6 separate regions of the Homo sapiens genome follow, and all the other regions are reported to be linked to region 1. Evidence: microRNA targets listed by miRTarBase, many of them from high-throughput screens and not tested one by one. Region 1 holds a microRNA gene; each other region holds the end of a gene's coding sequence.
The links. The annotated mature microRNA hsa-miR-200b-3p reads UAAUACUGCCUGGUAAUGAUGA and lies in region 1 at 2,565-2,586, shown strand. An mRNA with a match to its seed (bases 2 to 7 or 8) in the 3' UTR can be bound and repressed. Matches are read on the target gene's strand: a 7mer-m8 pairs with bases 2 to 8, a 7mer-A1 pairs with bases 2 to 7 and ends in A, and an 8mer does both.

Region 1 (4,106 bases):
AATCCACGCCCGCCGTGTGGGTGAAATGGCGGCTTTGCCTCCCAGACGCGTAGCTCCGGCGACGCAGAGGGAAGAACCTGAGTGCCCGCCAGGCCGAGCTCCGCACCCCACCCCCCGGCAGCCTCTGACTCCCGGCTCGGCTCCCGCGGTCGGGGAGGGTTGGATTTCACACTTTGTTCTCGAGGCCGCACCATTGATTAAGCCCGTCGGGCAGGTTAACCAACAAGTTAGGTTTTCACGCCGGGATCACATTCCTCGCCGGGCGCTCCCACCCCACCCCAGCCTGTGCAGGTGGGACCCGGCCAGGCAGGCGGGCAGGGCGGCCAGGTGCGCCGAGGGGCGCCTCCACGGGGAGTGTGCTCCGCAGAGAACCCCTTGCTGGGGCGGCTCTGGGCCTCCTGACTCACTCCTGGATTTTCCCAAGCTGAGTCTGGCCCCGCGGTGATGATTAACCCAACACCTCAACCGGCACCGCCACGCTAGCTCCACTTCCCGGCGACGGTTGACAAGAAAGCGCCGCGTGGGGCTCTCGGAAAACAGGGAAGGTCCGTTTTCGCTTTTCATTTCTTGACCTGTGGCCACGGTAAGACTCGGCCGCCTGCCCACCCGACTCCTTGCCCCTCACCCCTGTGCCAGGCACAAGGCCCTGCGAAATCCTTGGTCCCCCAGCTGAGCCTGCCGGCCCAGGCCACCATCTCCCCACCCAGCCCTGGAGCCAGGGTCGGCCTCTCCTGCTAGCTGCTCGTTGGCTTTACAGCTTCTGCACTCAGGAGGCGCCTGGGAATCCTGCCCTGGAACTTAGGAAGGAGGCTTCTCCCACCTGCCTGCCACACGGGTCTGTCCCTGGGTCCCAGCCTCTGCCGTGTGCCCCTCAGCCTCCCGGGTGAGAACGCAATGACTGATGAGCCTGGGGTGGCCAGGCCAGCTCTGGCCCTGTGGGGTTCCTGAGAAGGCTGGCCCTGGGTGGCCAAGGGCCTGGGGACACTGGCCCCGGGCCCTGAACCTGGCAGTGGGAGGCCGGCCCGTCCGCCGGGTGGGCTGGGAACTGTGTTTGGCCCCAGCTGCAAGGGACGAGTGCCGGGCACCTGCTGCCCTCCCCACGTGACCTGGCAGCCAGGAATGGAGCTGAAATTCAACTCTGCTCTGAACGGGAAGTCTTAGTTTCCTTTAGCTCAGAAAACAGGTGAAATTGTGTTCCTGAAGCACTGATTTGATGGGATTTGATGGCATTGGTGGCGAAGGCCTGTGAGGTGATGGAAAGGGAAAGCCGGGTGCCCTGGAGCCTGACAGGCTGGGGCCAGGGCAGGGGACCTGGTGTGGGGTCTCCGGAGAGGGTCCAGGCGTGAGGGAAGCTGGGTCAGGACCTCGGAGACGTGGCCTTTGGAGGAGGAGACTGGAACCGGGTGGACCCGGCAGCAGGCGGGGGCGGGCGGACACGACCTTTGTTGTGGTCGGCGGGCAGACAGGGGAATCGGCACAGGGCCTGCGCCCCACCTACAGCCTCTGTGGGTGGAAGGTGCCAGAAAACTTGAAGAGTGGCTCTGGCCAGCTCTCTGGGCCCAGTTGGCACCAGGTGGTTGCAGAGAAAGGGTGGGAAGGAGGACAGGAAGGACGGCGTGTCCAGCGGGCGGGGAGCCTTGGTCTGGCCTGAGGGCTGAACCTCCCTCGGGTCCTGAGTGTGCCTGGAGTAGAAGCCTAGGGTCTCTGGGCTCCAGGCAGGGCCCTGAGCAAGGAGGGGCCACAGGGCTGCCCACTTCCTCCTGCCCCCCTGCAGAGGCGGCTCAGCCCTCGCGGCGTCTGAGGCTTGACTGCCTGTGTCTGTGTTTGTGGCCGGTCTGCCTCTGTGCCTGGGTCAGACCCCAGACCAGCAGACACACAAACCGCAGGGACGGCTGGGCAGGGTCAGGAGCCTGCCCCGCCCGCACCCCCACCCACACCCCCACCCCCACCCCCGCCTGCACCCCCTGCCCTCAGACGCTGTGCAGTGAGCGGGGCAGCATGGGAGAGGGGTCTCCAGGTGGCGGGGACCGTTCTGTCTCGAGAGCCTCGCAGACACCGGGCCTTTGAGAAGAGAAGGGGCTGGGCAGGGAAGCAGCTCCTGGAACACCATCCTGGAGACAGAGGCCCTTGTCCCCTGCCTCAGACAAGGCAGCACGTGGGGCCCGGGGGGCTGGGGCTGCTGTCCAGGCCTTCCTATGGGACCACCCAGAGGGAAGGTCCCCCGCAGAGGGGTGGGGGCAGAGGGCCGAGCGGGGCGGGCAGAGGGCCCGTGTCAGCCCCACTCCGACCTAGTCCTCGGCCGTCTGGCCAGGACACTTCGGCCCCCCAGGTGCCCACCCCAGGACCCAAAGCTGGTGGCTGCTGGACTCGGCAGGGCTGGCGGGTGGGGCTCACCCGGGCCCCTGCCCTCCGGCGATGCTGTCCTCAGTGCCCCAGGAGGACGAGGCCCCCCAGCTACTGAGCTTCCCAGCGAGTCCCATGCAACCCTCAGCCGGGCGGCCCCCGGACCCAGCTCGGGCAGCCGTGGCCATCTTACTGGGCAGCATTGGATGGAGTCAGGTCTCTAATACTGCCTGGTAATGATGACGGCGGAGCCCTGCACGCAGCGACCGGCCGACCCCGTCCCGGCCCCCAGGGCCTCCCGCCGAGCCCCACACTCCCCTCCCACACAGCCCGCTCACCGGACCCCACCCCGTCCGGGCCAGATGGCTCTGGGGAGAGTGACGGGGGGACGTGACCTTCGGAAGGGGGCTGGGGCGCCCCCCACCAGCATCTCAGAGACCCCGGAATGCAAGGCCTCCTGCAGCTGCACCCAGGGCGCCCCACAGTGATCTGGGGATTAGGACGCTCAGGTGTCCGGGCCCTGCCCACAGCGCCTGGGCGGGAGCTGCTGTCACACCCAGCAGGTGCGGGCCGAGCAGGACCCAACAGAGGGCTCAGGAGGGCAAGGCCCAACCGGGAGCCACGTGGAACCCAGAGGAAGCCGCCCCACCCAGCTTGGCCACAGCCATCTTCCCTCCTGCCGGACAGGGTGGGCCGGCCACCGAGCAGACCAGTGCCCCCGCCTTGGTCCCGGGTCAGCAGCCCCAGGGTCCCCTTGCCCTGGAGGAAGCAGGGAGGGTGGGCCTGTGTGCAGTCTCAGGGCCCCCAAGCCCCTCTCCGCCAGCCCTGTCCGGTCCCGGCACCACCCCTGGCTGCTCACCGCTCCGGTTCTTCCCTGGGCTTCCACAGCAGCCCCTGCCTGCCTGGCGGGACCCCACGTCCCTCCCGGGCCCCTGTGAGCATCTTACCGGACAGTGCTGGATTTCCCAGCTTGACTCTAACACTGTCTGGTAACGATGTTCAAAGGTGACCCGCCGCTCGCCGGGGACACCACCGAGGCACATCCGGAGCTCCTACTCCAGGGATGGGCTGGGGCGGAGGGCCGAGCGGGGCCAGCAGACGGGTGAGGGCGGAGGGCCGAGCGGGGCCAGCAGACGGGTGAGGGCGGAGGGCCGAGCGGGGCCAGCAGACGGGTGAGGGCGGAGGGCTGAGCGGGCGGCAGAGGGCCTGTGTCAGCTCCGAAGTCCAGCCCCCAGGGGAGGGGCCGGCCTCTGCCGGGGGTGCCCCCGGGGTCACTCACGCCCAGGCTGGGTCTGACACCTTGAGGACCCCTTGGTGCCTCCACAGGTGGCCTGGAGGGCATCCTGCTCCCCCTCCCGGAGCCGCTGTGCCTCCCCCACCCAACCTCCCAGGCTGGGTTTTAGGGTGACCTGGCTCCAGGAAAGGCCATAGGGCTGGGATGCCAGGGCTGGAGAGGGAAGAGCAACAGTGGCCTCTCTCACGTGGTCCGGGCTCCGTGGAGGGTCTGCTGGGGGCGCAGGAAGGACAAGGTGGGTTCAGATTCCCGAGCCCCACCATGCAGGGGAGCGGGGACGCTCTGCGCTTGCCCTCTGAGGGACAAGGGGTCTCATTCCTTCCCCCAGTCAACAAGAACAGGAACTTTGTCCAAAACCCACCAGGCCAGGATGACCCATTGTTTCATCTTTTCCATCTGCAACCAGGGCGCCTGGGACCGCACCCCCACACAAGGCCCCAGCCTGGGGAGGGGGCAGCCACCGGGGAGA
Region 2 (4,106 bases), not on the chromosome of region 1:
TGGTGGCTGCTTATTTAAAAGTAAGCAAGGCCAGGTGCAGTGGCTCTTGCTGTAATCCCAGCACTTTGGGAGGCTGAGGCAGGAGGATATCTTGAGACCAGGGGTTTGAGACCAGCCTGGGCAACAGGGTGAGACCCCACCATCTCTACAAAAAATTAGCCAGGTGTGGAGGTGTGCACCTGTAGTCCCAGCTACTCTGGAGACTGAGACAGGAGAATTTTTTTTTTTTTTTTTGGAGACAGAGTCTCGCTCTGTTGCCCAGACTGGAGTGCAATGGCACGATCTCGGCTCACTGCAACTTCCGCCTCCCAGGTTCAAGTGATTCTCCTGCCTCAGCCTCCTGAGTAGCTGGAATTACAAGTGTGACAAGCACATGCCATCACGCCCAGCTAGTTTTTGTATTTTTAATACAGATGGGGTTTTACCATGTTGGTCAGGCTGGTCTCAAACTCCTGACCTCATGATCCGCCCGTCTCGGCCTCCCAAAGTGCTGGGATTACAGGCGTGAGCCACCGCACTGGGCCTGAGACAGGAGAATCTCTTGAGCCCAGGAGCCAGAGGTTGCAGTGAGCCGAGGTCAGGCACTCCAACCTAGGCAACAGACCAAGACTATGCTCAAAAAAAAAAAACAAACAAAACAAAAAGCTGAATTTGTTACTCGATGCTCTGCTGTCTGATTTGTTTGATCCTGCATCATACTTTTGTGATTAATTGCAGTTACCAGGCACTACTGTTAGGAAATGAAACATTGTTCTTATTAATAGCCACAAGTGGATCTACATCACTGACTTTTTTTTTTTTTTTTTTGGAAAGGGAGTCTCGGAGTCTCACTCTGTCGCCCAGGCTGGAATGCAGTGGCGTGATCTTGGCTCACTGCAGCCTCCACCTCCTGGGTTCAAGCAATTCTCCTGCCTCAGCCTCCTGAGTAGGCGGGACTACAGGTGCGTGCCACCACGTCCAGCTAATTTTTTGTATTTTAGTAGAGACGGGGTTTCATCATGTTGCCCAGGCTGGTCTCAAACTCCTCAGATGAGGCAGTCCACCCGCCTTGGCATCCCAAAGTGTTAGGATTACAGGCATGAGCCACCACACCTGGCCTGACCTCTTGAATGCATTGTTTTCTGTTTCTGAGATGGACTGTGAGCACCCCTGGCACCTCGGAGCTTCCTAACTCTGTTTTCCTGGGTCACAACTGGAAACTTTTTAAGACCTTTACCTAACAGGCTACTAATATAATCATTCTGTTTCCTTCCCTACCCAGACCTTCTCTGAACTGGCTGAGTCTTTTGACACCTGGCTTGTTCTCTTGCTAGTAAATTGAAAACCTTTGGCGTATGCTTAAGTTCAATTTGTCTCATATATTTTGTTTTATAGTAAAGGTGTGGGGCCTCCTCTGACCAGTCTGAGAGGAGCAACTTGTAGTGGTAGAAGGACTATAACTATTCAACCATATCTTTGTTAGCCTGGAGAGCTAACAACAAACAAACAAATTTTCCTGATGAGTAAAATATTGATGTTCCACATTTGTATAAGATATTCTTTGAAATGGGAAAATTCCAAATATCAACTACATGGGCACCAAAGCCATGCACTATCAAGATGGTTTTTAAACCTTTTTTTTTTTTTTTGAGATGGAGTCTCACTCTGCTGCCCAGGCTGGAGTGTAATGGCGCAATCTCAGCTCACTGCAAGCTCCACCTCCCGGGTTCATGCCATTCTCCTGCCTCAGCCTCCCGAGTAGCTGGGACTACAGGTGCCCACCACTATGCCCCGCTAATTTTTTGTATTTTTAGTAGAGACGGGGTTTCACCGTGTTAGCCAGGATGGTCTCAATCTCCTGACCTTATGATCCGCCTGCCTCGGCCTCCCAAAGTGCTGGGATCACAGGCGTGAGCCACCGTGCCCGGCCTTTAGGCCTTTAACGATATAAAATCCATTGTCTATCAGAGGGGAACCTTTTCCAGGAAACTGACTCTTGTACATACTTACTTCATTTTGCAGCAATTTCAGATTTAGTATTCGTAGCCCCAGCTCTTTAAGTAAGTATCCCTGGATTAGCCACATGGGTTGTGTCATACACTACCTAGCTGCCTTCATGGCAGCAGGCTTCTGAATACTAGAACCCTTCAACTCAAAGTGTCCTCTGTAATATTTTAACCCTTTTCTTCTATTCATTCATTTGTTGTCATTCATTCTAGAAATAATTCCGTGTCTACTAGTTGACAGGTACAGGATATTGCAGTGAATCCAGCTGATGTAGTCAGCCCTCATGGCACTTCCAGTCTAGTGGACACTTCAACTGCCCTTTCTCATGTCACCTGCTTGTCCTGCGTGAAACCCACGTGCAGCTTCCCAGACCCCTTTTGACATGTCAGTGCCGAGTTCCTGGTTCATCCCCCATCATTTTCCTCTCCCCCAGCCACCAGAGCCTCCCCTCACATACCCTTTTTTTTTCCCAAAGAAGGAGAAGCAGACGAGTTGAAGAGAACTCCATTTTATTATGGAAAGTTAAAAAACAAACAAAACAAAACAGGCAATTGATAAAGGCGGCACAATGGGGAAGGAGAGGTGAGGTGTCTCCTTAGCCACCCGACACCATCTCAATTCAGTTCAATTGTGAACCACTAGGAGAAACAGAATTAAATAACTATCAAGGGGTACAGAGTTAAGAGTTCCAGCCTTCCCTCTTGGGGAAAACTAAGGCAAAGTAATACTGAGAAAAAGTGGAGGAAGCCACACCTTCAGGTCACTCCAATGAGGAGACTGGAGGGGACAGAGGAGAGAATTCCACGCAGACACAGCAAGTAAGCGTGGCTTGTAAACCTGGGACTTTGGCAGGTGGGGCTGGGAGCTGATGGAATTTGTAAACCAGGCTGTGGTCAAGGGAGGAGGCAGGAGCTGTAAACAAAGGGGCAGTGACCTAGGAAATGAAGGAGATGTGCCTATAAATGGAGTGGGGTCTGGGCCTCCCAGAGAGACGAGTGCTTAAATCCCGAGAGTCCCCACGGGATGGTGGGGAGGAAGGCTGTGGGGAGAGTGTACCCTGCCATGGGGGGCAGGTGCTCCATCTCCACCCTCCAGGGAGTTCTGTGCCCCTTCTCAGGACTTGGCGCTCACTCTTGGATGACCTAGGATGCACCAGCACGTTTAACCCCACCCACACCAGGGACTTTGGATTAGGGTAGAAATTGGGCAATTGGCTCTGCCCCCAGAAACAGGGTGGGGAAAGCAAGTTACAAGATGTTGGTTGCCCTTCCCTGCCAGGCTCATTATCAGGGTCTGTCTGCCCTGAATCTTCCGGGCTCCAGGATCTTCAGTTATAAGAAGGAGGGAGGTATATCCCTATGTTGGAAGATGGTCACCGCCGGCAGGACTCATCTGTGGGAGAGGGGGCAATAATGTTAGAGAATGAGTGAGAGCCTCTGCCTTCTGCCCACCCTTCCCCCCCACACAAATTGAAGGGCAGTTGGCATGCAGGAAGTCCTATAATATCTTCCATATCTAAAGCATGTTACCACCAGTAACCACATCCATCACTCATTTAGCTCGGACTCTGTGCCAGGCATCCTTATAACTGTTTAATCTCACCATAACTCCAGGAGAGATTAAGTAATATGATATCCAGCTGTGGCTCTTGGTGCTTCACAAAAAATTACTTAATCTTGGCCTGGAGCACCTGTAATCCAAGCAATTTGGGAGGCTGAGGCAGGAGGATCACTTGAGGTCAGGAGTTCAAGACCAGCCTGACCAACATGGGGAAACCCTGTCTCTACTAAAAATATAAAAACTAGCCAGGTGTGATGGTACACATCTGTAATCCCAGCTACTAGAGAGGCTGAGGCACAAGAATCGCTTGAATTTGGGAGGCAGAGGTTGCAGTGAGCCAAGGTTGTGCCACTGCATTCCAGTCCAGGCGACAGAGGGAGACGCTGTCTCAAAATAAATAAATAAATAAATAAATAAAATTACTTAATATTTTCTACAAGTCTAGGAGGTAGTTTTTGGTTTCTGTTTTTTTGAGACAGAATTTCACTCTGTCACCCAGGCTGGAGTGTAGTGGCGTCATCTCGGCTCACTGCAACCTCTGCTTCCCGGGTTCAAGTGAT
Region 3 (4,000 bases), not on the chromosome of region 1:
TTCCTCTAGCTCCAGCTCTTCAAGGAAGAGGCTGCATGTCAATGATGCATCTCACAACCACCACTCCAAAATGAGCAAAAGTTCCAAAAGTTCAGGTAGTTCATCTAGTTCTTCCTCCTCTGTTAAGCAGTATATATCCTCTCACAACTCTGTTTTTAACCATCCCTTACCCCCTCCTCCCCCTGTCACATACCAGGTGGGCTACGGACATCTCAGCACCCTCGTGAAACTGGACAAGAAGCCAGTGGAGACCAACGGTCCTGATGCCAATCACGAGTACAGTACAAGCAGCCAGCATATGGACTACAAAGACACATTCGACATGCTGGACTCACTGTTAAGTGCCCAAGGAATGAACATGTAATAATTTGTTTAGGTCAATTTTTCCTTTACTTTTTTAATTTAAAAATTGTTAGAATGGAAAAATTCCTTCTGATCTAGCAGTGGTAACCCCTGCTGTTGCTGCCACTGCTTCAATATTTGTAAGTGCTGCTTTATTCTTCATTCTGAAAAGAAGAGATTATAGTAAACAAGTCTTTATCTCCACATATGATAGTGTTATAAATACTGTAAAAGCATGGAAGGTGCAAAACTCAGTATTTCTACAATTGCAGCTAAGAACATTAGGATGAATGGCTGGCTGCTTCTAGGAATATAAGATGCCTCAAGCATTCATTATTTATGATTTGAATACTGTAGCTATTTTTTGTTGCTTGGCTTTTGAATGAGTGTAAATTGTTTTCTTTTGTGTATTTATACTTGTATGTATGATTTGCATGTTTCAATGATAAAGGGATAAAACAGTATACTGACAACTGTTTACAAGAAAGTGGAGAAAAATGTACATACATTTTTGTATGTTTAGATATTACCGTAAATACTCAGGATTGGAGCTGCTTGTAAGTATAACAATATACAGAATAACTTTATTTTATCTTGTCAGAGTCCATCACTAATCTAAAACAAAGGTGGCACTTTTTTATGTTAACCTTAAACTCTAGGCCTTACTGGAAGCCACTGATAGGGGACACTTCACTACCAGATGTGTGCAGTGCAACAGATGGTCATATACACTGTGAGGCACTGAAATTTTGCCTTCAGAGGTTCTGACCAGATTGGCTGCTGAAATAGCCCCTAACTTTCTGAAGGCTTGAAGAGGAAAAAATAAAGTTTACATACTCTTGATGTGAAGTGCATTTAAATGTTTGTTGGCTTGTTGCAGTTCTATGAAACAGAGCTGTTAATAATGGTTATGTGGATTACTGTGATTTGAAAACTAAATTCACAATAACTTACCTAGTAGAGATTTAGTGAGTTGTTTCCTTTAAAGAATTTTACACTACATATTTTAATAGTAAACAGGGATCACTTTTCCTTTAGCATTCAGAATGACACCATATTCTTAAATATACTCCTTCCCTGAAGCGTGTTTGTGTGTGATGCCATATTTCTTTTTCAGGTAAATGTAGTCTTCCTTATAAAAATGAAATTAAACCTATGCTCTCAATTCTTTTATATTCTAACAATAAATAAAAAAGAAAAGATTACTGACTGTGCATTGTACCTGTATTTATAGTTTATGGTTATCAGGAAGCTCTGTAAGAAAGAAAAGGTCAGCCTCCCAGGCAAACCAGTAGTGGAGGTTTTACATTTGTTTGCACATCTCAGTATATTTCTGTTGAGGTAAAGTTTGCACAGTCATCTGACTTCTGATCAAGCATTAGATTTTAACTTGTTTAGATTTTGTCTTAAACACCAGTAATATGGCTCTTGTTTATCAGCTAATCTTGAATTTATTCTGTGGTAAATCTTTTGAGTTGTTGAGTATATTTGAGATTGATTGGATTCGACCTCTTGTTGAACTGAAAACTTAATTTTTTCTCTGTATTTTTGTTACAAAGCCACTGATACGTGCACAATTGTAATTAAGTATGTTGCAGTTGTAAATATTAGAGTTTAATCTCATGCTCTACCTTTATTTAGCAATTACCTAATTTGCCAGTAGCTTTATAATTTTTAAAGATAATTGTTCATTATTTTGTCAATGTTATTTGAACTTGGGGTACTTAGGAGCCTCTTTGTAGGGACTGTGCCTAGGTAGCATGTCCTAACATTTGTTCTGGTCTTGCATAACTTCAGTAATCTTTGTCATTATATGTAACTTTGTTGCTCTGTATGGCATAATATTGTATCCATAAACATGGTAATTTTGATACAGTTATACTTTTACAGTGGTACATAATCCAAGGACTAGTATAGAATTAAGCTGAGTGCAAGATGAGGGAGGGAAGGGCTTTCTTGGTAATTTAGATGTGAAACCTCTACAGAGCTATCATGTAAAAACTACATAAGGTGGTTGTGCTACTGTATAATTGGGGGTGATAATACCAGGAATTTTAATAAGATTTTGTAAAGAATATCCAGAAAAGTAGTGAACTTATTTTCAGTAGACATAGAAAACAATGTGAATATTTAAGGTCTGTGACTATAGTTAAACTTCACTAAGAATTTGCAGAATTGTTTTGAGATGTGTGAATAAAGGTAATTTTATTGAATCTTCATTGGTGCTAATGATGGACAGTTAAAAAGATAGCTAGTGTATATTGTTATGGGTCAGTACTTATTAGTACTTCCAAAATTGAATTTGAAATGCTATGTATTCACTTTTCACTCTGTAAATGTAATTCTTTACAATGACTTTATTTATTAAAGGGCAGCCAGTTGTCATTTTTACAGGATTGTGTGAGCTATTCAAACTCTTCAACCCCTGAACAGGGTATTAAGCTTCCAAAATAATGATGGGGATAAATATGGAAATCCTTTTTAAGTTGTATTTCCATTAAACAAAAACCCTTATAATTCATACTATCATGAATTTGCTTTATCCATCTCATTTGCATAACAGTTCATCTGTCTGGTCCCATTAGGCTCTACCAAAGAAAGACTCTGATGAGTGGACATTATTACTGTGACTCTTGTAAGTAGCCATAAATAAACCAAAATAGTATCAAATTTAGGTATGAAATTCCACATGTGCAAAGTACTGTTAAGGTGATAACATTTTTGATGAGATTTAAAAAAATATTTGAAATATTAAAAAGCATTATCTTTAAACATCCTATAAAAGAGTGAGTCATTTTTAAGTTGTGTTTTCCCTAGATCACTGATTTGTTACCTTTACACAGAAGCACATTGCAAAGAAAGGCTTTATTTCTACCTCTTCCATTCAGTTTTCCAATATTGAGCTGTGTCCCTCTGAATATTTGCCTTAGCTATTTCAAAATAGGTATTTTCAGAACCAAAGCAAAGGGTGGTTTGTTCACTGAAACATTCTTAGAGGCCTACTTAACGGGCGGCAGTATCCGGTAGTGGTAAAACCTCACAGTTTCCTAATTGCAGGTATGTAAATACCAAAAAAGTCCTGTTGTCAGCCCTAGGTTTATCTTTGAAAGCAGTTAAATGTGCACCTTGGTCTTCCTCCGTGTGTTCAGATTCCTTCTGGTTAAAGTTCTTATTCAGAGTCATCTAAAAGAAATTTCTAACATGATGTATGGTTTCTTGAATGTCATGAGTGGCTGCGTATATTGCTTTGTAGCAACAGATTGTATTAATAATTAATAGAATACCTAATTTTTTTGGCCTATCCTCTTTGAACTAGAAATGACTACTTGAGGGCTATTTCAGAGAACCAATATGAAATGTTTTTGTTAGTACAAAATACCATTGCCTTAAAAGGTTTCAAGCACATTTTCTTTTCTATTTGAGAACTTAAATTGCTGACTTGTATTCGTTAAGCAACCTTAGAAATAAACCACTGCTTATATCTGCATGAATATTATGCATTTCATGAGTACAGTTAGTTGATTAGATATTTCAGGGTTTTGCATTTTCTATAGACATGGGGACTTTTTTAACATGGTAACGTCTTAGGAAAACCATTCTCTCAAGGTATTACACCATTTCCAATTTTATCCAAATGAAAAGCATATCTGCTTAAATT
Region 4 (4,106 bases), not on the chromosome of region 1:
CTTTGCGCAGGCCCAGTGTGCGTTCTGAAGGAGAGCCCAGGGTGGGGTTCCGGGACTGAGGTGCAGCCGTGTCCAGGGTGGGCTTCTAGCTCTGCCGCTGGGCGGAACTGGGGTAGGTCCCAGGGTGGGGTTCCAGGACTGAGGTGCAGCCGTGCCCAGGGTGGGCTTCTAGCTCTGCCGCTGGGCAGAACTGGGGTAGTCCCAGGGTGGGCTTTTAGCTCTGCCGCTGGGCGGAACTCGGGTAGGTGGGAGTCCTCACTTCTCTGCAGGGTGGTGAAGCTCTCTGGGTAGTGTGAGCAGTTCTCAACGTGCACCTTGGAAAGCGCCCGTTTTGAGGTTTAGCTGTGGCCAAGATAGATGACTTCATTTTGTTGCTTTTTGTTCTTAACATGGGGAGATATTTAGAAAACATGTTTGGCTCTTGCTGGGGAAGCAGTGCTGTTCCGTACAGTGTTTTACAAGCCGTGTTTCCTTAGGATTGAAAGAAGGTGGCAAGAGGAAGAAGCAGAAGCAGAGAGAGGAGTCGAAGAAGAAGAAGTCGACCAAAGGCAATCACTAGACCGGACTTGAGGCACGCGGTGCACCCCCAGACGCTGGCGCTCCACCGTGCTCGGCATGCGGTCGTGCACACGCGCTAGGTAGCAGCGTCGGTCAGGACTGTCTCGAGGCCACACTCGCTCGGCAGGATTATGCGATCACGGATCAGTCAGAGCAGGGTCAGGAGACGGGGCTGACGGCACGGGTGGCGGGGACAGACGTTTGGGACTTGGCCGCGACTCTCTGCTTCTCTCCAGCTCTCAATCTGCTGCATTTTCCTCTAGTGCTTCCGGATCCTCTTCATTCTTTTCGGCTACTCAACCACTCCGCATGCTGCTGGAATATTTCTGGCTTTAGAAGTACAGGAGGGCGCAGATGGCTAACTGAGTAACATTCATGAAATGAGGCTTTCTGTGGCGGCGTAGTGTTTGGAATTAGAAGGTAATTCAGTAGAGTGTAACTTAGAGAATATTGCAAGTGACACATTGAATCCTGCCCGTCAGGGCACCTTTTCCTCAGAGCAATCCGGCCACACGAATAGAAGGCTGTCGTGAATCACATCAGATGTAAAATCATTCCTTCTGTTTACTCTTTTAATTTTCATCCTTTGCAGGTAGTGCAAATTCAACTTCAAATATGGTGTAGGTTTTGCTAGATTCCATATTTTTTTCTTGGATTTTTGCTAATTATTTTTAGCAAAAAATTTTTGCTCAGTGGCACTCTCCCTAGTGTCCATGGGTTAGGGCCATGCTGGGGAAAACGGGCCGGTATTTACACACGCGCAAAACACCCAGAGACGGCACAAGGAGGTTGAACTCATGTTTCAGTTCGCGAACATTGACTCCTTACGAAAGTCACTTCATTCTAACTAGATGCGCCCACTTCCGGTCATTATTTCGTTTGCATGATGTATTGCTTCTTCACGTTTTGTTTTTATTGAGCACGGAGTAGAATTCCAGGGCTGCCTTGACTTCTTCCCTGCATGCTCCCTCCCAGTGACTTTCCTTCCCTTTCACATGAGGATCTGCCGTTCATGTTGCTTTCTCCTTTGTCCTCTTGGACTTGAGGGCATTGTGAAAAGCTTTGCTGTGATTTAAAAATGCCAGCAATTTTAATCTAGCAGTGTTGAAGCTGGGAATTTTTTGGCGCAATCCATGTAGCAGTGACCCAGGCTTGGGAGCCAGAAACAAGTGTGACCTGGGATTTTATTTAACACAACTGTTGCCAAAGAGTTGGCTTTGTTTATTTGGTTTTGGCGGGGAGAGGAGTGGTATTTGATGCTTTCTGTGGACAATGTAACCCTAAACACATCATGTATTTTAAATGCCACCTACATAAATAAAACATAAGCATATTGAATACAGCTCGCCTGCTGTCCTTTGTAAGCGCCAGTAAGTTGCACCGTTAAGACTGACTAGAAATAAAAGCAATTCTTCAACATTACGATTACAAAGGATGAAAGTGGTGTTTTGCAGGCAGAAGCCTTGCTTCCGAAATGCGTCACTGTAAGGCGAAAACATGACTTTAAAGCTAACACCCCCGGCTGGGCAAAGTGGCTCACGCCTGTAATCCCAGCACTGTGGGAGGCCAAGGTGGGCAGATCACCTGAGATCAGGAGTTCAAGACTAGCCTGGCCAACATGGTGAAACCCCATCTCTACTAAAAATACAAAAAATTAGCCGGGTGTGGTGGCACACGCCTACAATCCCAGCTATTCGGGAGGCTGAGGCACGAGAATTTCTTGAACGAGGGAGGCGGAGCTTGCAGTGAGCCAAGATCGCACCACTGCACTCTAGCCGGGAGACAGAACGAGACTCCGTCTCAAAAAAAAAAGGCCGGGCACGGTGGCTCACGCCTGTAATCCCAGCACTTTGGGAGGCCGAGGCGGGTGGATCACGAGGTCAGGAGATCCAGACCATCCTGGCTAACACGGTGAAACCCCGTCTCTACTAAAAAATACAAAAAATTAGCCGGGCGTGGTGGCGGGTGCCTGTAGTCCCAGCTCCTTGGGAGGCTGAGGCAGGAGAATGGCGTGAACCCGGGAGGCAGAGCTTTCAATGAGTCCAGATTGCGTCACGGCACTCTAGAGAGAGCGAGACTCTATCTCAAAACAACAACAACAACAAAAAAGTAACACCCCAACGCACAGATGAGGTGGAAACTCCCGCAGCCTTCACAGGAGGCATTGAGGGTCCCGAGAGGAAAACCTCGTCGACTCACCCTGGCTCTGCTGGCGACCAAGACTGGGCCAGACACGCGCTCAGTGCTGACATCCTGGCGTCCGGCCTTCCTGGTGACAGGGGAAGGCGGTGCAGTAAGTCGCCTTGCGGGCCGGGGTCGGGGGTGTTTTTAAAACAAGATTAGTCCTTCTCAACTGCTCAGATCCCAGAATCTGCTGCTGAGATTGTGGCGAGGGAGGCAGGTGGTTCGACAGGTTTAGAGGTGACTGTTGTGCCCTCAACCCTGCCCACTTGACCCTCAGGCCGTCCCAGGAGCGTGGCCGGGCTGCCTCAGCAGGGGCACAGCTAGGGAGCGTGGACAGAGCCGCGAGCGCCTTCCAGACAAGCCAGGCCACACACAAGACAGGCTCTTGGCAAAGGGGCCAGAGCCCCGTCTTCACACGGCCTGGCTACCGAGTCAGCTCATGTCACAGGTGGGTCCTCCCTTCGCTGAGAGGGAGAGACCCCGACCCCAGGAGGAGAAGGGAGCTGGTGTCCATGGGGCCCGGCAGGTGCATGGCCAGCAGGTAGGCATCTGCTTCTCAGGTGAGGAGGGGTATTGGGGTCTACCCGACCCCTGCGCCCAGCGCCCCATCCCCCTAGGGCGGGTCCAGGAGCTCTGTGCTGCAGATAGAGCCCGCGGCTGCTTATGCCAGCGTCTGCTGAGGGGGTGGATGCTGCAGATAGAGCCCGCGGCTGCTTATGCCAGCGTCTGCTGAGGGGGTGGAGAGGGAGCCCGGCCCCTGGGTGTGCTCGGCAGCTGCTGAGATGATGGCAAGGGGGAGCGCGGCACCTGTCGTCGTCACCTTTGTGACGTCCCAAGCACTGGGGGGCCCTGCGGGGGGTGGGGAAGGCAGTGAGGTGCTGGTGGGTGGGAGGCAGGGGGGCTGTGGACGGTGTGGCAGGGACTGCAGTTGTGGGACTGGGGTGGGGAGTCCTGGGGGTGTCAGGACCACAGTGGGGCTTCCTGGCCACCCCACTGCCAATCCCAGGGCCACCCTGTACGCCATTCACTTTTGTCAGGGGCATAAAGGGCTGCAGAACCCACTTTCTGTAAGTAAATACATTTAAACATCCTGAAACGTTCACACCCTAACCCTAACCTGGGGGTCCCACGTGCCTTCCCTCATGTGGGTTGCACAGCTGGAGACAGAACCAGGACGTGGCGCCGTCACCAGGGAGAGCTCTCTGCTCTTTTGTTCATAGGCCTGGAAAAGTGGGACCATGACGTGAATAACCACACCTGTGTTTAACACATTTTGTTTTGTTTTTGTTTGTTTGTTTTTTTGCAATGGAGTCTCACTCCGTCACCTAGGCGGGAGAGCCGTGGCACCGTTATCACACCTCAGA
Region 5 (4,095 bases), not on the chromosome of region 1:
CTGTTGAGTTGTATGAGGGGAATTCAGATATAAAATCTTAGGAAGGGAGACAGAATGGGAAGGAGGAAGGGGAAAAAAAGGATAAGGAAGGGGACAGAAGAGAAAAAACTCTAAAGCAAAAACAGTTTTCATTAAATGATGTAAGTAACAGCAGTAACTGTTAAACAAGATATTGGAACACACTTGTTATTCATCGTCCTCTCCTGTCTCTAATAACATATGCTGAATAAGTGACTTTTTCTTCCTTTTATTTTACAGAGGTCAGAGGTCAACTCCGCTCACCCATGATGGACAGCCAAAAGAAATGCCGCAGGCTCCTGTACTTATTTCCTGCGCTGACCAGTGAAGCGCCCTTTCATTGTAAAACATTGTGCTTTACCTACTACCCTAGCCTTGTCTTTACCGAGGGATGCTAGTGAGTCCAAGTGGTGGAAAATATAGACTGCAAACAAGTGCTTGTTGCCCCACACGGCCCAGATTCACTTGAAGCAGAAGTTAGCATCCTGGGCCAGTTTGTTCTCTCAGAACCCAGAATCTTTGAGGGTAAGGTTATCTGTCTGATACTGAGCAGAAACAGAATGATCCTGGAGCTTTGCTTTCTATTGAAGGCTTTTGACGGTAATAGGTGGTAACTTGGTAAAAGGCTGCCTTTACTGTAGCTCACCCAGCATCTCTTTTACCAACCAGAGAGTGTGAAACTAGTTTCATATATTACCTAGTTATTCTTTCAAAACAAAACAAAAAAAAAACAAAAACTGACGCACTGCACTAGTTATTATTAGATATTCTTAGTCTTTTTTGTACATGGAGATTTAAGTTTAAGATGGTTTATATAATAGGTTATACCTACATTTATATTGTAGAATAAATATTAAAAAGCCTGTTCCAGAGACTCCCAAGCAGCCTGGGCAGGCAGATGTACCATTGTTAGTGGTGTATGCTCGGCCTCGTGGTCCATATATTCTGCACTTTTATATTTGCCACCAGAATGGTAGTTTGCTGGCAAAAAAAAAAAAAAAAGAGAGAGAGAAAAAATTACAACTCTTACAATCTGAATTTTTTTCTTAGCCTTGAGTGACCAAGAAGAATTTGCTTGAGGCAAATTGTGGCAAATATTTTCCCAGACAGGGGAAGAGTCCTGCAGATTACAGATTACTGGTGTTTTCATGCCTTGAGGATTCTTTTATTTTTACATAGGGGTCTAAGTGACCAATGGATTGTTCATACAAACAAAAAAAAAGACAAAAATATTATTCAGAAGTGACCTTAGTATTACTTCACTATTCTAAACACATTGAAGACACTCACTTCATGTGGACTTGGAGCTACAGACCTTTTACATCCATCACAGATTGGCTGGACGGGTTGCAATTGCTATGCACAGCCTGATTGGCACTGCAGGTTTTTAGAGCCATTTTGAGTTTGTGTTGTTTAGGAGGTACTGAGTCAATGATGAGGGAGGTATGCCTGACCAGAGTGGGACTCTCAGTCATAGATCCACCTGCAAGTCTCTGTTTCCTTTTTGTGTTTTGTTGCTTTTGAACATAAAACCAACCATACATAAGCAGCGCCAAGTGGATTAACTGGCTTAGAACATTCAACATATTGACTTAACCACCTGACATTCACAGTGTCTTGTTTCCTAGCAACAGATGCAAAGTGATAAATCAAAATTAGTCTGAGGCTACAGATTTTACAGGGTATTTGTTCTATAGCACAAAGTATTTCCCCACTCTTGCGTCACAGCACAAACTACCAAATTTTAATTATTGGATTCCAGCAATAATTTTTAATGGTTTTCAAACTGGCGGAATTTTGACAGTGCTAGTTCGAGTTTGAAGCTTTTGAATTAGATCTCTAAATGGTGACAGTTTACATGGTTTTATCTAGCTTTCTTATTTATACTTGACTGAATTGTAATGATTTTTTTTCTAATTGTAATTTGACGTAATAGCCATACAAAAAATGACTCTATTCATACTAGGTTTAGCTTCTCATGGTTGTAGATATTACTTCAGTTCCGGTGCTGGAAAATATGTACAACATACTAACAGGATTGAAAAAAAAATAGAGGTTTTTCTTCTTGTTTTTTTTTCCAAAGCAGGTAAAGAGGGTAGCAAAGCATCGGAATGATGTGCTCAAAAATGCATATTCCTGGTGGGGATGGAGGAAGAAGGCATTAGTAAAAGGTTAATCAAACGTTACAACTTAACCCCATTCATGTAGGAATAAATCAAGTGAGCAGTTCCAGACTTTTGCATAATATTTTTACTATGATGCTGTTTTATTAATATTTTCTAAATTTCAAAACAAAAAGTGAATGTTTGAAATTGCTGGGTCCCGATGTTGGTGGCTGTTGGAGTTTTGGACCACTCGCTAGCAGTGATTTGAAGATTATAATTAGCTAAAATCCAAAACAAAAAACCAACAACAAAAATTGTATGGTGCGGAACATGCACCTTGACAATGGTACTAACTTGTTATTCTATAGAACACGTTAGAATAGATCTATTTTTGCCAGAGCACCCTCCTTCAGTCCTCCGATTACATTTCACTAGAGTTCCTTACGAGATTGCTGTATATTCCTGGGACCTTTTTTAAAAAAAAAAAAAGCAAAACAAAAGATTACTTTTTTTCTATGTGATTAATATCTTACTTGATCTGCTTTTCCTAAACCTCAGTGGCTTTTCCCTTAGGCAGGGTTGGGGGTGGGAGGGCAACTTACTGGAGATGACTGTTTTCAGATACTTTAAAACAAACCTTTTTGTAGAAATGCTTAATTTTTAAGCGGTTAGGCACTGAGAGTAGCAGAAATCCTGCAAAGCTTTATAGTTCCTTAGACTCACCTTGTCGATTCTCTGAGTAAAGTCTTGATTTCAATAATTGTGCTTCTCATGCCCTGAAACTGCTGGAGAGGAGTGTTGTTATTTTCAGGTAACAACATTCGTTAGCACAAATATTTCAGACCAATATTAGTGCTCTCCACCCCACCTTTTGTTATCATTTTCATTTCATTTCTCTCATTCTTTTTTATTTTGGAAAATCATATTGCTATAGTGTGTACTTTAATCTGCCAGCAGATACCATCTACACTAACATTTGTCCCACAGCATCCTCAAGAGAAAAAGTTGTTGCACCTTATATATATCTCAAGCAAACCAAAATATGATGCTCTTCTGCTTTGTTTTATTCTAAATTGTTGTATCATATCTTTCTGAAACCATTCTGAATTTAGTTGAAATTATCAATATTTATGCTTTTAACCTTAATTTCTGGATTCAAGCCTGTATATAAATCTTTTGAAAAAAAATTGTCCTAGCCCTTCTCTGCGATGCTGGAAGTAGAAGATTGCGTCTCAGATGGAGACGCAGTACTGTTCCAGTTTTCTTTAGCCTTTTATTTATTTAGTTATTCTGGGTATTTCCTATGTAATTTTGAAGTGTGTAGAGTATATTATAGTAACTGAAGCTGCAGCTGTAAGAAGCTGAGTGAAAGAAAAAATACTGTAAGACATCCTTAAAGTTTTTATTTGTTTGGGTACTGTATATGAGATCAGGAAAAAGAAAAATGTCCCACAGCCACATTGGAAATACAGGTTCTTGTCCCCAAATTAGGTTAGTTCCCAGATTTTAGATCAAAACTGTTAATTCATTAAAACCCCTTTTAAAAGGTAAATTCTACTGTTGTAATTCCGATAGTCTTTTTCCCACAAATATCAGAAATATATTTATTTAATTCTGTCAGATGAGCTTTCTACCGATGCCATGTCCCAAAGCCATGTTAAAATAATTCCCACGTTATCATTGTGATTCTACTTCCTGCCACTAAAATTGCTGGAGAAACAAAATAATGATGGAACACTATGAACAAAAAGGAGCATCTGAACTGGTCTGGTTATTTAGAATCCAATGTGTTCAAATCCTTTTGTTTTCTTATTAAGTCAGATGCTACTGTAAGTCAGATAAAATTTTGTTTGCACTCTGCAGTCTTTGGCTCAATGTATGGAAATGTTTGCACCTATGTAAAGTCACAAGCTAATTACAAATTGCTACAGAACAGGAGTAAGCTGAAAACTGAATGCCATGTTTTGTTTAT
Region 6 (4,106 bases), not on the chromosome of region 1:
GGTATACTTTGAGAAATATAAAATGAAATTGTAAGGTAGAGGTAGCATTAATAAACTATCTAGTATACCATTAAATAAGTTTGTGGTGATTGGTGATTCAACACCCGAATCATCTAGGTAAATCCTGAAAAACTCATATTTTATTAATTGCTTCTCCTTCCCCTTCTTTCCCCGTCCCCACTCCTTTCTCGTCTCTTTCCCCCCCTCTCCTTTTCTCCCATCTTTCACTTCTAATTTCAGTGAAATTGGAGCGATTTGAAATTCCAATCAAGGTTCGATTAAGCCCAGAGCCATGGACCCCTGAAACTGGTTTGGTAACTGATGCTTTCAAACTGAAAAGGAAGGAGCTGAGGAACCATTACCTCAAAGACATTGAACGAATGTATGGGGGCAAATAAAATGTTGTTGTCTTATTGACAGTTGTGCAGGAGGTAGCCTGGTGGTTTTCAACCTCTAGAATTTTAAGCCTTTGTTGAACTGTTAGAATGTAAGGTATATCATTCTAAAGATAGAGTAAAAAGAAAACAAAACCAAAAGTTATTAAAATTGTTGTCCGGTTTACTTTAACTTAGTTTTGCATAGTTCTAGTGCAGCTGAAATTGAAAAGTTATTTCCCTTTAGCTGTGTTATTATAGAGCAGAAATTCTGTTTTTAAAAATTAGCCTAAGATATACTTGTTTTTGTAAAGAAAAATATTTAATGTTGAACAAAATAAATTGGAGTTGGAGTAGAATGTAGTTTGAGGAAATTTGCAGCTTCCAATGCCTCTTGTCTTCCTATTTCAGAAGTTTAAATATTAAGCATGACAGAAAATATGTATTAACACTACTCAAAGCAAAAGTGCTGCAGGGCTTTAAAATTCTCTTCCAACCATTTATCTTGAAGGAAAAATTCAATAGTAATATAATACACAAAATCAAATAATACCTTAGAAGGTATTAAGATTATAATTGTTGCATAGGTTAGATATAGAGTCATTGTAATGTTGTGAATAATTACAGTGCCTAAAATAAGAATAGAACAACATATACAACACCAAAAAATATCTAGTAATATATTTAAAGGGAAATTGAGCTGCTTTTTTTGAAACTTTGAGATCTAAAAATAACTGTAATTATTTGAATGACTAAGAGGAAAGTACATTTTTTGAAATGCTGAAAATTGCCTTTCTGTGTTTATTCAAACTGAAAAGCTGAGACCAAGAGCAAGGAAGGTAAAAAGTTAACAGGCAAACATTTTCTCTTAGAAAAGGTGATAAAATCATAAGTATTTGGAATTAGAACCCTTGCACAGCACTGAACCTGGGAAAGAGATTTAAACTCTGAATTTATCTTTGATAACAGGGATTGATTTTAAAATGTACATGTATTAAATTACATTTGTAATTTAAGGTCTGTTTGCTGTTGCTGATTTTATTCTTGATCAGTAGTTTGCATTTCAGAAAGCCTTTCATTTTGCTTTAATTTTAGCAAAGCGGGTTATAATGAATGACTTCCCCAATATCTTGCTTGAACTTACAGGTGATTAACTTGGATGAGTTTTGGGAAGTTAAAGGGAAGAAAACACTGTTATCATTTTTTCCTGTTTGGGAAGAGCTTAGAAACTGGAAATACTAGATTTGGGAGAAGGGCAGAGTTACTTGATAAGGGACTGATGTTTGTGCAGTAACTTGGGAGTGTGGTTTCTTTTTGAATCTTTAATTAAAACCTGGGATTATATATCCCTGATAAATATTCACACTTGAACCATAGTTACTGTAAAATGCAAAAAATCTTAATACTGTTATTCTTTGCACTTTTTCTTAATCATTTTTTATATATATGCATATATATATGTGTGTGTGTGTGTTGCTTATGTTGTTTTGTACAGATGTGGGCCACCATTGCAACAAAATACATTCTTTTTGCTCTAAAATATTTATGAAGAAAATACTTAAATGTTATGTATATGGTGGTAATAAGGGAAAAATCAAGTATTATAAACAAGAATGAAGGTTTTTGTAAAGATTTCTGTTCAGCGTTTTGCAAGGTAAAATTTTAGGCAAGTTTTCCCTGAAGTTATGTGTATGTGAGTATTCTCATTCTTCCCAACTTGCCTTTGAAGAGTGAAATACCATTATTATCAAGTAGACTACTGTTCAGCTTTTATTCCTGCCCTGCTGTTTATCCCTTAAGAATGAGTTTCTTAGACTTTTCCAATATGTGATTTTTTTTCCCATTTAGAATGGTGATTTTAAATGTGTGAGTGCATGTACTATCTTATCTCAGATATTTGCACCCCCAATCTGCCCCCAACTCCCAAAAGCTAGAACACTGCCAACTGATCTGTTATAGGTCCTTTAGAAACACATAATTAACACTTAAGGTTGGGTGCTGCTAATTCTTTGCAAAAATCCAAATATTGTTAAGGGACCAGGGAGATGCCACTACCCCTTGATTTTCCATCTAAAAATATACATGTTTATGTAAACAAATCTTTCCATATCCATAGTGACTTTTCAAGTATTTAAGCCTAAAGATTTTGATCTCACATTTTTATACCTGTTTAAATTGCTCACAGTTATTACATACACATCAGCCATCAACTAAAGTTGTACTTTAAAAATTTACTACAATATGTACATTTCTAAGTCAAACACTTGTGACTTTTGCTTTAATTCCATGAATGTTCCTGCCTCCTTGATATTTGTATTTATTCTTTTTTTCTCTAGAGTAGAGGTATAATTGTGTGATATTTCAGAAATACAGATAAATGATTCAAAAAGTCACAGTTAAGGAGAATCATGTTTCTTTGATCATGAATAACTGATTAGTAAGTCTTGCCTATATTTTCCTGATAGCATATGACAAATGTTTCTAAGGTAACAAGATGAGAACAGATAAAGATTGTGTGGTGTTTTGGATTTGGAGAGAAATATTTTAATTTTTAAATGCAGTTACAAATTATAATGTATTCATATTTGTACTTTCTGTTAAAATGCATGATTGCAGAATTGTTTAGATTTTGTGTTTATTCTTGATGAAAAGCTTTGTTTGTTCTTGTTTTTAAGTTTGCACTCAAATCTTAAGAAATAAATCCACCCATGTTATCAAGCCAATTTGTACTTCATTATGCATTGAGATAAAATCTCCAAGTTTGAAGATTATTAACCAAACTTTTAAACACATATTTTTAAAGTACTCATCTCCAGGTTTATGGAATTGCATTAAGCAGTTAAACCGGCTTGTATAGTCCCATCCATTAGTTCAGAGTATTTGAATCCCAAACTGTTACTTTGGTCCAGTCAATAGAGTAAAACCCCTTTGTAACACTGATACTTTGGGACAAAACATGGATTATCAGTGGGCGCTACCAAATTATAACTGCTACTTTTAGGCTAATTAATATTTTAGAGAGAAATTAATTTGAGTTATATGAGGGTGTGTATAAAATGGCATTAAGAGCTCTATTTCCTGGCTTTGCCACTGTAGTTGTGTAACCTTCAGCAAATTAATTAACATTTTGGAGCTGCATTTCTTCATCTGGAAAAATTGGGTTGATGGATAATAGGATCTGCCTAATAGGATTGTTGTGAGAGTTAAAATGTAAAGTGTTTAGAACAATAGCTTATGTTAGCTATTATTATCATAATTATTATTGTACCTAGACACTATTCATCAGTCAGGTTGTTTAAAGTATTGACTAGCATACTCAGGGCCTTAAAGAACTGACTGCCCCTGAAGATTTTGTGAAAAAAGTTCTAGATCTAGAGGTCAGGAGACCTGGGCTTATTGACACTAGCTTTGTAACCATGGGCCAATCTCATAACCTTAGCCTTAGCCTTAGTTTCTTCTTCCCATTAAAAAACAAACAAACAAACAAACAAAAATTCAAAAATGATGCCTTTTGCAAAAAGGGAAAGACAAATGACAAAAGAAATAGGGAACATGATAGTCCTTATGGTCCATCATGTCTAGCTTTAGTATTGTGATATTACTGTTCCAAGCTCTATTTTCTTAAATGATGCCCTAGGTTCTGAGTTTCCTATAGGGCTATGAGGCTATGGATCACAAGAAGTTGAGGATTCTACTAGGTATAAGGAGTCTGTGACTCTTTTTTTTTTTTTT

Region 2: the mRNA of PPP1R18 is a reported target of hsa-miR-200b-3p. Seed matches in the 3' UTR shown: 8mer at 2,709-2,716.
Region 3: the mRNA of CCNT2 is a reported target of hsa-miR-200b-3p. Seed matches in the 3' UTR shown: 7mer-m8 at 595-601.
Region 4: miRTarBase lists DNAJB6 as a target of hsa-miR-200b-3p. The part of its 3' UTR that is shown has no 7-base or 8-base seed match.
Region 5: miRTarBase lists BBX as a target of hsa-miR-200b-3p. Seed matches in the 3' UTR shown: 7mer-A1 at 1,269-1,275.
Region 6: miRTarBase lists ACSL4 as a target of hsa-miR-200b-3p. Seed matches in the 3' UTR shown: 7mer-A1 at 1,972-1,978.

Annotation. Positions count from the first base shown.
Region 1 is chr1:1,164,596-1,168,701 of GRCh38, forward strand. It overlaps MIR200B (microRNA 200b), which reads left to right and starts at 2,509; the gene lies at 2,509-2,603. MIR200BHG (MIR200B, MIR200A and MIR429 host gene) reads left to right here. Exons shown (of 2, transcript XR_007065348.1): 2 at 1-4,106. MIR200A (microRNA 200a) reads left to right here and starts at 3,268; the gene lies at 3,268-3,357.
Region 2 is chr6:30,673,911-30,678,016 of GRCh38, forward strand. PPP1R18 (protein phosphatase 1 regulatory subunit 18) reads right to left here. Exons shown (of 3, transcript NM_133471.4): 3 at 2,479-3,378. The coding sequence ends at 3,359. Among named protein-coding and RNA genes, the nearest start is that of DHX16, 3.0 kb to the left of the region's middle. RefSeq lists a silencer at 1,049-1,188.
Region 3 is chr2:134,954,285-134,958,284 of GRCh38, forward strand. It overlaps CCNT2 (cyclin T2), which reads left to right. Exons shown (of 9, transcript NM_058241.3): 9 at 1-4,000. The coding sequence ends at 364. Among named protein-coding and RNA genes, the nearest start is that of CCNT2, 37 kb to the left of the region's middle.
Region 4 is chr7:157,415,540-157,419,645 of GRCh38, forward strand. DNAJB6 (DnaJ heat shock protein family (Hsp40) member B6) reads left to right here. Exons shown (of 10, transcript NM_058246.4): 10 at 477-1,900. The coding sequence ends at 559. Among named protein-coding and RNA genes, the nearest start is that of DNAJB6, 81 kb to the left of the region's middle.
Region 5 is chr3:107,805,112-107,809,206 of GRCh38, forward strand. BBX (BBX high mobility group box domain containing) reads left to right here. Exons shown (of 18, transcript NM_001142568.3): 18 at 259-4,095. The coding sequence ends at 346. Among named protein-coding and RNA genes, the nearest start is that of LINC00635, 71 kb to the right of the region's middle.
Region 6 is chrX:109,640,321-109,644,426 of GRCh38, reverse strand. It overlaps ACSL4 (acyl-CoA synthetase long chain family member 4), which reads left to right. Exons shown (of 16, transcript NM_001318510.2): 16 at 241-3,092. The coding sequence ends at 398. Among named protein-coding and RNA genes, the nearest start is that of KCNE5, 17 kb to the right of the region's middle.